Linked DNA regions of Homo sapiens: region 1 is linked to region 2. Evidence: fine-mapped expression QTL. A gene starts in region 2. The other region holds a variant in brackets. All regions are shown on one strand. Distances are from middle to middle.

Region 1 (2,912 bases), 39 kb after region 2:
TGGAAATAAAACCAACTTGTTATATAAAAGCTATATCAAACCAATAATCTAGTTTTATAAATATTGATTAAAAAACATCAGAATTGTGATTTATTTCATAGTATTCATTTGTCAAACCACATGTTCATATAACAGCTTTAAAATCATGATATTTTCATTGGTATAGTGTGGGATTGAGTAAGGGACATAGGGACTTCTGTAACAAATACAGAAGATTACAGTGCAAAAACAAAGCAGGATGTTACAGAATCAGAGTAGTAATACAGTGAAAATTATCCTAGAACAGTTGATTCCCTATCATAGCATGTCAGAGCTGGGAAGACTTTAGAGGTCATCTAGATCCAAGAGAAAAGACTTGCCCAGGATAAACTCTTTGTTCTCCTTAGGCTGACATAATGAATAAAACTTACTAGAGATAGGATCAAAGATTCCTGCTCCTTTTAAAATGATTTCATACTTAAGGGGAGAAATCTTTTGGAATGGTTTCCACCAATAGAGAAATCATAATTTCATTTGACCAAAAGAAAAACAACAAACTAGCCAGTCGTGGTAGCATGTGCCTGTGGTCGCAGCTACCCGGGAGGCTGAGGTGTGAGGATTGCTTGAGGGCAGGAGTTCGAGGCTGCAGTGTGCAACCATCGTGCCTGTGAAGAGCCACTGCATTCCAGCCTGAGCAACATAGTGAGACTCATCTCTTAAAAAATTTAACAAACTTACTATATATAGATAAATATCTGTATCTGTCTATATAAAGAGAGATTTTTTCCCCTTCCCCAGAAGTTGTTTGCCTAATTTGAGCTCATCCTAGAAAAGGGTACATGAGAATCAAAAGCAAAGGCTACTTCTTGCTTGACAGTTTAAAGGCCTTTCGTATTCCAAGATTGTATAAAGCAAATATGAAGGAAAGAAACATAATTGGTAAAGCAGATTTTTTTGTTTTTGAGACAGTGTCTCACTTCAGTGCCCAGGCTGGTGTGCAGTGGCACAGTCACAGCTCACTACAGCCTTGACTTCTTGTGCTCATGTGATCCCCCCATCTCACCCTCCCGAGTAGCTGGGACTTACCACTGTGCACCACTACACCCAGCTAATTTTTTGAATTTTTTTTGTAGAGACGGGGTTTCGCCATGTTGCCCAGGCTGGTCTTGAACTCCTGAGCTCAAGTGATCCGCCTGCCTTAGCCTCTCAAAGTGCTGGGATTACAGGCATGTGCTGCTGTGCCTGGCCAGACTTTTTATAAGCTTAGATTATGAGGGTAGTAGTAGTATGTCCAGCAGGTATTTTTGAC[A/G]TATGTGCTAGGCACTAGATTTTCTTTTTTTTTTTTTTGGTTCAGTAACACAAGTATGTATTGAACACCTACTATTTCCTGACACAGTTAATATTAGGCATTATCTTGTTGAACATTAGTTAAAACACCATTTTTTTTTCTCTTGAGATGGAGTCTCGCTCTGTCGCCGAGGCTGGAGTGCAACGGTGTAATCTCGGCTCACTGCAACCTCCGCCTCTTGAGTTCAAGCGATTCTCCCGCCTCAGCCTCTCGAGTAGCTGGGATTACAGGCGCCCGGCACCATGCCCAGCTAATTTTTTGTATTTTTAATAGAGAAAGGGTTTCACCATGTTGGCCAGGCTGGTCAAAACACCATATTTTTAAAGAGCAAAAATTATTTTCCTGCAAGATATTGTAGAATAAATCAAGTAGGATACAAGCTTTTAGGGAATTCTGGGTTTGTTCTAATTTAATTCATATTCCTGACTGTACTTTTCTTTTATATTTCTTATGTTTTTCTCTCTGCTTTTCTCAGCTCATTTTTTGCCTACCTGGATGATTCCATCTTGGAGAGCTATGTAATCAGTGATTAGTTTTGAATACCATTCCCAGTTTCTTATGTAGATTTAAGTTTGGAGTGGAAGATGCTGTTTCCCCAACCCCCCCAAAAAAATGCCTGAAAGGGAAGCTCAGCACAAGAAGGCTAGAGTCTTGAGCATAATCCTAGGCAGGATTGAAGGATAAGACATTTTAATCCTCTATATATTTTTGCACCATTTAATGTATTACCCTTTATATTTGCAGGAGAAAGGCCCTTTAAGTGTCCCTTCGAAGGCTGCGGTCGGTCCTTTACAACATCAAATATCAGAAAAGTGCACGTTAGGACACACACAGGAGAAAGACCTTATTACTGCACAGAGCCAGGATGTGGGAGGGCATTTGCCAGTGCAACAAATTATAAAAACCATGTGAGGATACACACAGGTAACAATCTCTGATCTTTTGGTCTTTTATCTTTCAAGGCTCAGTTTAACTCCTGCCTTTTCCAGAAACCATTTCCAACTAATCTCTTCCCTCCTTTCTATCACTTGGCATGGTGGAAAGAGATTAAGCAACTTGAAAAAGTTTCACCTTAACAGTCATACATTCATTTATTCAACAAACAGTTATTGAGTATCTCCTGCCAGGCATCAAACATAGAGAGATAAGACATTGTCAAGGGCAGGCTACTTGGGAAGAGATAGTAGACATACAGTTGCTGCAGTGTCTCCCATTATATGGACAAGATGCTGTGGGAGCAGAGAGGGGAGCAGTCACTTCTGCAGGAATGGGAGAAGCATTTTGGGAGGGGTTTCTGGGAGATATTTGGCATACAGACTCAATCCTGAAGTTTGCCACATAAGAGAGAAGGGTATTCCTGGCAGGGGAAATGTCATGGGGAAAGGCACAAAGGTATGAAAAAGCATGATACTCAGTGGTTCCATATGACAGGAGCATTAAGTACATGTAGAAGATTTGTACAAGGTGAGTTCTGAGAGGTAGCCAGAGGCCTTGTGTGTTGTGCTGTCAAAGTTAAGGTACTTCTTAAACTGGACTTTGTGAAGCTTGTGAGGGGGCGGGGTGGTCTATGGATATATTCTTTTTT
Region 2 (2,912 bases):
GAAATGCAAGACATTAAGTTGAACATCATCCAGCTTTCTCCCTGTTTTTCTAAGCGCGATCCAAATCTGTTACAACAGGGTAGTCTCTCATTCTCTTGGTAGCTCAATTCTACCCCCTGGCCGACTTAAGAAATTTTGAGTCTAATACACCCACCTCATCTTTAGTCGGCCTGGTGCGCCAACGCAAATTTGTACTGAGTACCTTCGGAACTGACTAGTAAGTATATCCAAAGGTTTAGAAAGGGCTGGGTTAAGAGCTACAAGAAGCATTAACCGCAACGGCCACAACTAATTTGTATCCATTCTTAGTAACTTTAGGGAACCAGACTGAATGCTTCTCCCACCCTTTTGACTTTCCTTTATTAGTTCGCAACACAAGAACATACAAAAGACCGTAGCGACAACCATTTCTGACGCCTTCAACTTTTAAATCCAAATTACGTGAAACCACAAAGCATCAGTGGTGTCTCCCCGAGGAATCCAAGACCCCCCGGCCGGTTGCCAAGCCGCCGGAATTTCAGCAGGAGAGGAAGGCTCACCCTCCCACCGCATGGCGATGCCCGGGAGACTGGAGAAGCTCAGGCAGGCTTGGAAGCCAATCCCCGGCATACAGCAGCTCTCGGGAATGCAGAGCCCTAGAGCAAGACCAAGGGCCTCGGCCGACACTGAGAGCCTCCAGGGAGAGGTCAGGTCTCTCTTTCTGTCCTATTTCTCCCTTCGACTTCCCTCCCAGCAGGCTGCTATTGAGCATTCAGCAATCGCCAGACAAAGCCCTTCTGGTCTGCAGAACGCACTCCGGCAAGCCCACCGGGAGAACCAAAGCCGCCTCCTCGCCCCTGTGGGGAAAATGGCGCTCGTCACCCCGGCTCCCTCCCGGGTAATCACAAGGACCAGCCTCCCTCCCTCGCTACAAAATGGCGCCTCCCGCTGGGGCCCCAGAATCGGTATGACTCGCTAGTCAGTGAGGCGGGGTCCGTCTGGGATAAGCGGTTATGTCAACCAGTCAGACACAGGAGCTTTGATTCTGCACTTTGCGCGAGCCACTCAGGGGCGGGCTGTAAAGTCAGGCTTGGCTGACGTCAGTTGAGTGGGCGCGGCTAGGGCGGTTTTCTTTCGCGTCGACCAAACGTGGGCCAATGGAAAACCGGAAGCGTCCTGTGAGTGATGTAATGACAGCCCAATGGAAGCTGGGGGCGGGCCTCAGACACACTATGCGGGTTGCGGGGCCTGGGGGCCGGACGGCTGTTTCCTGTCCTGGTGCATGGTGGTCGGACGAAGGAATTGTTGGAAAATTTTCTCGGAGGTTCGTATATAAATGTGTTTTTACCCAGTGTGCATTATTCTCCGCCTGGCCGCCGCCCTCAGCGCGGCGGCGCGGGCCCGCTTGGGCCCGGGCTCCGGCTCCCGCTGCTCAGCCTCCGCCGCAGGCCTTGCCGATTTTATGGGCCGGCCGCGGTAGCGGCGTCTGGGCAGAAGCGGAGTTTATTAATAACCCGCGGCCGCCACTCTAGGCGGCGGAGCTTTTTTCGTTGAGGACTCAACTCCCCCCAGCTTGTCTCTGAGCGATGCGCCCCGCCTGTTTCCCTCAGGGGACCGCCAAGGGGAGGGAGTGAAAGAGGGGAGGGTGGAGCCCTCGGGAGCCTTGGCCGCGTTTCTCGGCCTGACCTCCGCGCAGAGCGAGTCCCCAGGCGCCGCCGAGGCAGAGTTCCGCCGCCTGGGACGCCGGGCCCACGGGCCACACCAGGCCGCAGCGGGGGCGCCGGGGACAGGGCTGGCCCAGGCCCTCCCAGGACCTGCCGGTCTCACCTAGCGCTTGCTTCCCATGCGTATCGTGGGCAGATTGTTTCCCCCTCACCCTTTCTTCTATTAAAAAAAAAAAAAGGTTACTGAGGTCTAACATCGGATATTAGAAATTTACAATTTTATCCTCCCTTTTCTCCAGTTTTGGCCAAAAGAGTGAACAAATTCTTATAAGTCTCTTTGAAACGTATTATTGTGGAACGCGAACTAGTTTTTATTCCTTCCCCTTTTGCTTTGGACATTTGTTTTTTCCACATAATAACGAAGTTAAAAAGAGGAAAGAAGAATACCATTGCCAGCCCATTATTTGTTTAAAATCAGCGTCAGCCTTTGCTTTGGAAGTGTCTAAATCAGCTGATATAATCAAGTGAGAATGTGGGGAGAAATTGTAGGTTCGAGATTGTGGTCGGCTTTGTCCTGAATCTTACCAGAAGATACTTGTGTTTTCCTGTAGTTGACAAAAAACGGTGCAGTATTTAATGTTTTTTCTTGCTGAGTATGTAGATCAAGTTTACGTTTAGTAAGAAAATAACGTGATAAGGAGATCACTCAAAAACACCCATAAGATGCATAGCTAATTTTGTCCTGGCGTATTTTGACTGTTTGGAAATTTTTTTTTTTTAATTGTCAGTGTCCACTATTTGGAAATTCTATGAGCAGTCAGCTGTCTACAGATACTTGAGTGCCTTTTTTTTTTTTGCTTTACAGATGCCCGCCTTTATTTTTTAAAATAGCTTTAGTGATGTAATTCACATACCTTACAGTTCACCCATTTAAAATGTGTAATTAGGCCTGGGCAGCATAGGGAGACGGCCCTCCCATGTTTCTACAAAAAAAATTTTTTTTAAGTGAAATCAGCGTGTGCCTGTAGTCCCAGGTACTTGGAGGCAGAGGTGAGAGGATCACTTGAGCCCAGGAGTTCCAGGCTGCAGTGAGCCGTGATTGTGCCACTGTACTCCCGTCTGGGTGACAGAGACCGGTCTCGAAAAAAAAAAAAGTGATAATTAGTTGAATTTTAGCCTGGGTGTGGTGGCTCACACCTGTAATCTCAGCACTTTGGGAGGCCGAGGCCAGCGGATCACCTGAGGTCAGGAGTTCGAGACCAGTCTGGT

The links.
Region 1: its variant is fine-mapped to the expression of ZNF143 in whole blood (INTERVAL, PIP 0.91).

The regions. Positions count from the first base shown.
Region 1 is chr11:9,499,020-9,501,931 of GRCh38, forward strand. It overlaps ZNF143 (zinc finger protein 143), which reads left to right. Exons shown (of 16, transcript NM_003442.6): 11 at 2,072-2,251. Among named protein-coding and RNA genes, the nearest start is that of ZNF143, 39 kb to the left of the region's middle. The variant A/G (reference allele first, on the strand shown) is at 1,289.
Region 2 is chr11:9,459,774-9,462,685 of GRCh38, forward strand. ZNF143 (zinc finger protein 143) reads left to right here and starts at 1,239. Exons shown (of 16, transcript NM_003442.6): 1 at 1,239-1,303. It overlaps ZNF143-AS1 (ZNF143 antisense RNA 1), which reads right to left and starts at 925. Exons shown (of 1, transcript NR_036539.1): 1 at 1-925. RefSeq lists enhancers at 1-243, 443-522, 613-712, 773-852 and a silencer at 1,623-1,832.